Linked DNA regions of Homo sapiens: region 2 is linked to region 1. The links come from fine-mapping of genetic effects on gene expression. A gene starts in region 1. The other region holds a variant in brackets. All regions are shown on one strand. Distances are between the middles of the regions.

Region 1 (4,396 bases):
AGGCCAAAGCAAACTCTACCCTCACAAAAGGTCACAGGACCACAGCCAGAACCATGAGAAAGCCAGGTGCTTACCGCAATCAGGGCTGAGTTCCTCTGGTCCCCTGGGGTTGAAGCGGGCGGCTGCTGCTCTCCGTTTATCCCACCACTGCCACCATTATTGCTACTGTTCAGCAGGTGCTGCTGGTGGTGATGGTGATAGTCTGGTGGGGGCGGTGGGGCTGCTGTTGCTGCTGCTTGGGAGGCCGCAGGAGGGGCAGCAGGGGGCGGTGGAGGGGCTGTAGTGGTGGCAGCAGTGGCGGTGGCCTTGGTGTGTTTGCCAGCTTTCCTTGCCCCCTGGCCATGCTGTACAAGGCTCAGGAGCTGCAAGGTGCTTTCTCTTTCCCGGTCTGAGCTCTCGGCCCTACCTCGTTCATATCGTCCTTCACAGCTCAGGTGGTGTTGGCGGCAGACAGCGATCCGAGCCCGGAGGCGCTCCACGATAGCACTGTGCACTCTCGGGGTGACTGAGCCCCCTCCAAGGAGCCCCGCCCCAGAGGCCCCCCCTAGCCCTCCTGCGGGGGCCTGCGGGGGCGCTGTGTCCCCCATCTTACCGGACACAATGATTGCTGCCTCTGGGATGGTGAGGTGGAAAGAGGCTACTGCTGGCTATTGCAGGCAAGTCTGTTTTTGACAATGTGAGCTCAGTGTTCAGGGCCACATGAATAGAGGTCTTCAGAGGTTGTGGGGGAGCCGTGGAGAAGTTGTGGGGGAGGGGAGTTAGTAAAAAGAGGGTGGGGAGAAAGAATAGAAACCAACTGGGGGGAGGATAAGTTGGAAACAAACCCTGATTAACTTACTCTAATTGCATTTGACAGCTCTGGAGAAGTTGGACAGAGTTGGTGGATTTTTTTTCCTCCACCAAGCTGACAAGAGCCACTAGGTACTTTGTAAACACACGATCTGGGGGTTAGATCAAGAATTCAGGGATTGTCCAGCAAGAGACAGAAACACACAGCAAAAGGTATTGAGAGAGGTATTAATAGAGAGGACTCCCCCTCACCTAGTTGTTTCCGACAATTCTTTATGGGGATGTTTCTGCAGAGAAACACATTTCTACCATGTCTATGTAACCAGCAGCCTTGACTTTTCCTCAGGTTAAATAAAAAACCAAAACAAAACAAAACAGTGCTGTTTCAGAAGATGTTTAAGTCACTGTTCAAAATGTGCAAAAATCAAGGGAGACTGTCTTTTGGCTTTTAATTTTTCCTCCCTTTCCTTTCGCTCCGGTGTTTTCTCCTCTTTGGGGTACTGTAGGATGTTGTCTTCTCCCAAAAGAGGGAGACAGCTTTTCAACTGTTAACAATGTCAGTAATTGGACTTTTGGACCATGCTTTTTTCTTCAGCTAATCCAATCACCGGTAAAATCCTCACTCCCTCTAAGGTTTCCTAGCCTTAAATGAAAAGCAATCTTAAGTCGCTAGCCACTGAGAGAGATCCTTCAACACATTTTTTTCTTTCCCGCTTACGTTTCTATTCCTCACCCCCGGCTCTATTCTAATACAGTATCAAGAGAGACAAACTCTTCCGAGAGTAATTTACAAACGATGGTCAAACTTACAAACTTCCAGCAAATTGCACCGAGTCATGTCCAGCCACTTTTCTGTCCACTTTTGTACATTCCATCCCCGGCCAGTGGATCTGAGGGTCTGGACTCGCAATAAGCAATCTGGTTCTATCTCCTGTATTTGCTCCGCTTTATAGATGGAAAAAAAAAGTAGCTTGTATTTTCCTTTCTCTTTCTCGTCTGTTGTTAGCCGCTTTGCTGACACTGGCTCGCGCCCGGAGTCACGGCGATACACAGGCTTTCATTGTGCTCCGATAGGAGAGGGAGAGAAAGAGAGAGAGTGAGACAGAGAAGGAGAAAGAGAGAGCCAGCAAGCTGCAGATGGGGGTGGGGGGGCGGGGAGAGGGCGGGAGAGCTCGTTCGAGGCTCCCTGGTGGAAGGCTGGTGCCACTGCGCGAGTGAGTAATCGCAGCCAGGCACCGGGGAAAGGGGAACGCAGAGGGCCTCCCAGTGGCTGAAGAGGTAAATCCCAAGCCCTGCGCATCTCAGCTGCCCTGGCTCAGCTCAGCATCAGACTCGGTTAAGCGGGGAAGGCTGGGGAAATTCCCCAACCTCTACACAACCATTTCACCAGCTCTAAATGTTTAAGAAATTCCGGGCCAGGAATGTGTTTTCCCTTTCAGCCCTACATTACGCCCCGCTGAGGATATCATTTTCATTTTTCAGTATATTGTAAATGACACCACTGAGCAACCTAGCACGAGCTGTGTGAGCACCGAGGAAATGTTCATTAATAGAATAAGGAAGATATGAATGTGTGTGTTGAGGGCGGAAGGGGTTGCGCGTGGAGAGGAGAGGTAATCACATTGTTAGCTCCTAAAGGGCAGGCAGGTGTAGCGTTTGTCTACCTGCCTGCCCATTTGTGTGTCTCTGGATAAGTGAGTCTGGGTGATCACAGGCAAATCAGTTGGGATAAATAAAATATTTTATGAGAATGATACAATTATCGATACCAGTTCTAGAAAAAAACGCTTTTTTTTTGGGAATGCATGATTGCCTATGAAAAACCAAATATAAGACCTGAAGTATCCTTAGCTACCTGGTGCACATATACAATGAGGAAAGTCAATGTGTAGCAGCTGAGTTTCAAAAAGTTTTTTTTTTTTTTTTCTTTTAATGGAGTCTTGTTATGTTGCCCAGGCTGGAGTTGAACTCCTGGGCTCAAGTGATCCTCCCACTTGAGCCTCCTGAGTAGCTGGAACTACAGGTACTCACCACTACTGCACCTGGCTCTGAGTTTCAAGAAGTTTAATAATAGAAACCAAATAGATCTCACACAGATCATTGTTCCCCCATTTTCAAGTGATCCAACCTTTAAAATATCCAATCCTGGCCAGGCACAGTGGCTCACGCCTGTAATCCCAGCACTTTGGGAGGCCAAGGCAGGTGTATTACCTGAGTTCAAGAGTTCAAGACCAGCCTGGCCAATATGGTGAAACCCCGTCTCTGCTAAAACTACAAAAATTAGCTGAGCATGGTGTCATACGCCTGTAATCCCAGCTACTCGGGAGGCTGAGACAGGATAATTGCTGGAACCCAGGAGGCGGAGGTCGCAGTGAGCTAAGATCACGCCACTGCGCTCCAACCTGGGCAACAGGGTGAGTCTCTGTCTCCAAAAAAAAAAAAAAAACTTATTGTGGATTCTGCTTATTTTCAATTATGAAGATTAAATTAAGGTGAGCATAATACTGCAACAGTCAGGACCAAAAATATTCTGGGTATCCTAATTTGGAAGTCATTTGGATTTGAGGTCTCAAATAATATACCTTCAGTAATCTAAACAAACTCTGGCATTTCACGAATATGGTCGTTTCAAACTGAGCTATGGATAGAAATAGGCAAAATCAAGGCAAACATCTCAATACTGGATTTATTTGCAATTTAGTTCCCTATAGGATAGCCTACTTTAGTCCATTTTATTTTCACCAATCCTGTTAGCTTGGAAATGGGGACAAATACACTCAGATTTTTTGTTTGTTTTATAATTTCTTTTATTTCTTTTTTTAAATTTTATTATTATTATACTTTAAGTTTTAGGGTACATGTTCACAACGTGCAGGTTTGTTACATATGTATACATGTGCCATGCTGGTGTGCTGCACCCATGAACTCGTTATTTAGCATTAGGCATATCTCCTAATGCTATCTCTCCCCCCTCACCCCACCCCACAACAGTCCCCAGAGTGTGATGTTCCCCTTCCTGTGTCCATGTGATCTCATTGTTCAATTCCCACCTATGAGTGAGAACATGCGGTGTTTGTTTCTTCGTCCTTGTGATAGTTTGCTGAGAATGATGGTTTCCAGCTTCATCCATGTCCCTACAAAGGACATGAACTCATCAATTTTTATGGCTGCATAGTATTCCATGGTGTATATGTGCCACATTTTCTTAATCCAGTCTATCATTGTTGGACATTTGGGTTGGTTCCAAGTCTTTACTATTGTGAATAGTGCCGCAATAAACGTACCAGTGCATGTGTCTCTATAGCAGCATAATTTATAGTCCTTTGGGTATATACCCAGTAATGGGATGGCTGGGTCAAATGGTATTTCTAGTTCTAGATCCCTGAGGAATCGCCACACTGACTTCCACAATGGTTAAACTAGTTTACAGTCCCACCAACAGTGTAAAAGTGTTCCTATTTCTCCACATCCTCTCCAGCACCTGTTGTTTCCTGACTTTTTAATGATTGCCATTCTAACTGGTGTGAGATGGTATCTCATAGTGGTTTTGATTTGCGTTTCTCTGATGGCCAATGACGATGAGCATTTTTTCATGTGCTTTTTGGCT
Region 2 (4,396 bases), 92 kb before region 1:
AAGGTGGTGTGTGGCGCAACTAGCAGAAGCTAATTGTTAAATATTCAAGAACTTTGCAAGCTGGTTGTTAAACTGTTTGTAGCTGGAAATTGACTATGATGGGAATATTTCCACAGGGAAATTTAGTAAACACTACAAATCAGGATTTTGCTGTTGTCACTGCTTTTCAGAGAGCCAGTTTACCAGGACACCACTGATTGAAAGTCACCAATGACTTTCACCTGACTCAGTGATCAATTACAGTCTTCAGCTTAACTAATTTATTGGCAGTATTTGACAACAAACTCTTTATCTGACAAATAAACTCTTCCTCCTTCTTAAGTTCTTTCTTCACTAGCCTTTTGGGGCACTATTTTCTCTTATGTTCTCTCCCTCACTTCTCCTCTGTCTCCTTTCTGCTTCCACTTCATCTTTCCGACCTCTAGATATTGGAGTGTTAGCACTCTGTTCAAACGCCTCTTCTTTTCTTTAGCTATACTTCTGCTCCAGGTGTTTTCTTTCAGCCTTCTAGCCTTAAATACATAAATGTACACTTTTAAGCCAGCCCTTGCGCATGAATTCCAGCTTACTTATTCCCCTGACTACTTGGCCTCTCCGCTTGGATGTCTAATAGGCATGTCAAACTAAAATGTCCAAAATGAAACTTCAGTTCTCTCGCCTCTTCTTTCCTCAGTAACCAAAAATGACACTCCAACAATATCCCTCCAGCTCAATAAATGGCAGTTCTAGCTGCACGAGTCACACATTTTGAGTGATCCTTGGTTCAGTTCTTTCTTTGACACCCTACATCCAACGTATTGGCACTACTCTTGGCTCTGACTTTAAAATATATCTAAAATCCACACTTTTCCCCACTTTTACTGCTACTAGCTTGCTAGTAGCTAGTAACTAGCTCCAAGCAACCATCACTTCCAACTTGTGCAACTATGCAATAAACTATGCAACATATCTCCATACAATGTAGACCCAGAGTAAGCCTATAAAAATGAGCTAGATCTTCTTATACTTCTGCTTAAAACACTTTGCTGCCTGTCTTACTTAGAATAAGACCAAATCTTCGTATTGGTCTACAGAGCCCTACAAGGTGTTCCTGCTACCTCTCAGAACTCATCTCCCATCACTCCCACCTAGTTTACTCTGGTCCTGCTAGAGCCTCCCTGCAATTCGCTCAGAGACTTTGCACTTGCTATTCCCTCTACCTGAGAACTCGTTATCCAGACAGTTTCACGGCTCGCTCCTTTACTTCCTGCAGGCCCGCTCTGCATGAAATTAATCCCCTCCATGGCACTTATCACCCTATGGCACACTACAGTATTACCTGTTTATGAGTATACATCCATCTAGGCTTGGTAGACAAATTATCTGCTTTTCTTTTTTATTTAAAAAAATGTTTAAAATTTAAAAATTTTTTATTCTTAAAATTTTATTTTTTAAATTGAAAAAAATGTACATATTCATGAGGTACATAGTGATGTTTCAATACATATAATCATAGTGCTCTGATCAAGATAATTAGCACATCCATCATTTCAAACATTTATCATTTATTTGTGTTGGGAACATACACTATCCGCCTTCTAGCTAGTTGAAACAATATATTATTGTTTGCTATAGTCATCCTACAGTGCTAAAGAACACTAGAATTTATTCCTCCTATCTAGCTGTAATTTTGTATCATTTAATAAATATCTCCCTATCCCTTTATATCTAGCAGTTAGAAGAGTAGTGCTTGGTCCATAGTGAAAGCTCAGTAAATTTTGAATGAATGAATATATTGATGTCACACCAGCAGCTCTGGAGCATGAAGGAAGCTACTATCACCTTCTCTTCTGTGTAAAGCATTAAGTGATAGACACATTTTAAAATGACAAGTGTTCAATTTCTCTGCCAGGCTGTCCTTGCATACAGACTAAATAGGGAGGCTTTTTGGACTGGCAAAACAATTAAATACGACTTGATTCAGGATTAATAGTAACTTATTTGGTGATAATGACATTACAAACTCTTTTCTTCATATTGCAAAAAGAGGATTTCTCCATCTTGAAAGCCTCTTAATTTCATACTTGGAGGACCTGCAGGAAGAACTATAATTGAAACAACTGAAAGTATCCCTTAGGACATTGGCTTTGGTTGATTTGTGGAGTGATGGTAAGGGGTGAGGGAGAAGAGGGAGCAATAAAACAAATGCCAAAGTTTTTAGCAATTTTATATCGCTAGCAATAAAGTAGTCTTTACAATTACATACACATAACAATAACTGTTTCCACCCCGCCATCCCTCATTCTCTTCTGCCATTGATGTTGCCCAAAAACTGAGGCTGAAGTTACCCAGTGAAAATCATGTCCCGCAAAATGTTGTCTTTTACTAAAGATGGTAGAGTACAGGCATGAGGCCTCTCATCCCTAGAATTTTCATGGAGGTAGCTGTGTTTCAGATATCTCTGTAGCTAGAATTCACAGCATGTGCTATGAATCACACATGATTGGTGATCTACGGTACCATTTTTTTTCTCTAAGGTATTGGGATAATTAGATAGGTAGGCCTGAGTTTTAATTATGTCTTATAACATTTTTTATGGGAAAGTGTATTGTGAGATTCAAATTCTTGTTTTATAACTGAATTTTGGAAGACAGAACTTATGTAAGTAAATTGGAAACTCTGGAAACTGCCTGTAT[T/C]GTTATTAGTAGTAAGTAGGATTACTAAATTTAGAGTTCTAGCTAAGCCCAAAAGACAGGTATGTTTTAACCTTCTATGGTAGTAGGAATAATAAGCAGTGATTATCCCTTTTAATTTTCCAAACATGTTATGAGGTGTTAGAGGTTCCATCCATGGTGGAATGTTGGAGAAGCATCAACAGAAAAAAAGAGGCCCACAAATACAAACCCTTTTTTTTTTTTTTTTGAGACGGAGTCTCACTCTGTCACCCAGGCTGGAGTGCAGTGACGCGATCTTGGCTCACTGCAACCTCCGCCTCCCAGGTTCACGCCATTCTCCTGCCTCAGCCTCCCGAGTAGCTGGGACTACAGGCGCCGGCCACCACGCACAGCTAATTTTTTTGTATTTTTAGTAGAGACGGGGTTTCACCATGTTAGCCAGGATGGTCTTGATCTCCTGACCTCATGATCTGCCCGCCTCAGCCTCCCAAAGTGCTGGGATTACAGGCATGAGCCACCGCGCCCAGTCAATACAAACCCTTTCAACACCAGACGGAGTAGCAAAGACACTCCTGGTTGTATGGCCTGGCTAATTTCCAATTGGGTCTAAATACTTTTTCCCATAAAATTACACTCGTTATGCTGTTGGGAAATATGTGCTTCTCTCTCTCTACACACACACACACACACACCCCACACACACACAGACATGTACAATAGAAAATGAAGTCAACCAACATTAAGTTCTGAAAATGTACTACACATTTTGCTGAGTTCTCTATATAAATAACAGTGAATAGTTACCTTCTACATGTGTCAAGTATTTCACATGCATTATATCTAATCCTCACAATAATGAAAGCAAACCCTTATGTGATGTTTTGTGCAAGGCATTGTTCTCAGCGCTTTACCTTGACTAACTCTTTTTTTTTTTTTTTTTTTGACCTGGAGTCTCGCTCTGTCACGAGGCTGGAGTGCAGTGGAGCGATCTCTGCTCACTGCAACTTCTGCCTCCCGGGTTCAAACAATTCTCCTGCCTCAGCCTCCCAAGTAGCTGGGACTACAGGCGCGTGTCACCATGCCTGGCTAATTTTTGTATGTTTAGTAGAGACGGGGTTTCACCATGTTGGCCAGGATGGTCTCAACATGACAGGCTTATGAGGCAGGAGGCAGACACTAACATCACTGCTATCTTCAGATGAGGCACCTGAGGCAAGAGAAGTTAGATGAGACTTGTCCAAGGTCATATCAGGTGTAAACAGCTCACCTAGGTTTTAAGCATAAGCAGTCTGGCTTCAGTCATGTTCTTACACAGCCACATCTTGCTGCCTTTTACACAACAACCTATGAGAAAAGCAGTTTAATTGTCTCCATTTTCCTGACGAAGAACTGCATAAAGTCCCTTGCCTGGTTAAAGGGCGTAATGGGATCCCATCTCAGGGTGCTGACATGAAAGTGTGGGTTCTCACAAAACAGCCTCCCACTATAATATCGTGTCTCTTTAAACAAATACTTGGTTTCACAAAGTCAAGTGGCATGCCTTAAAATTCTTTTGCATAATCCCCCTCGCACAGAAATACCCAAGGCTCTGCATATAGTAGAGCCTATAGTAGAGCTCAACAGAGGAAAGAGATTCACACAGATTGATTTTGCATCATATGTAAATAGGAGCCAAAAAAACCCTTCAACACCACAGCTTCCCTTTATTCTGAGAAAACTCCAAGGAAAACTGACTTTGATTT

Direction of the effects. Positions count from the first base shown, and alleles are read on the strand shown. Sizes are in standard deviations (SD) of each study's normalised expression.
With allele C in place of T in region 2, the expression in lymphoblastoid cells of the gene that starts at base 1,887 in region 1 is lower (small effect, 0.17 SD a copy in GTEx).

What was found. PIP is the estimated chance that this variant, and not a neighbour inherited with it, causes the effect. A credible set is the group of variants that fine-mapping cannot tell apart.
Region 2: its variant is the best candidate, but not a certain one, in a credible set for the expression of MAML2 in lymphoblastoid cells (GTEx, PIP 0.74).

Annotation. Positions count from the first base shown.
Region 1 is chr11:96,341,309-96,345,704 of GRCh38, forward strand. MAML2 (mastermind like transcriptional coactivator 2) reads right to left here and starts at 1,887. Exons shown (of 5, transcript NM_032427.4): 1 at 75-1,887. The coding sequence starts at 587. MIR1260B (microRNA 1260b) reads left to right here and starts at 130; the gene lies at 130-218. RefSeq lists silencers at 504-763, 1,881-2,070.
Region 2 is chr11:96,248,849-96,253,244 of GRCh38, forward strand. All of the region lies in intron 1 of MAML2 (mastermind like transcriptional coactivator 2), which reads right to left. Among named protein-coding and RNA genes, the nearest start is that of MIR1260B, 90 kb to the right of the region's middle. The variant T/C (reference allele first, on the strand shown) is at 2,676.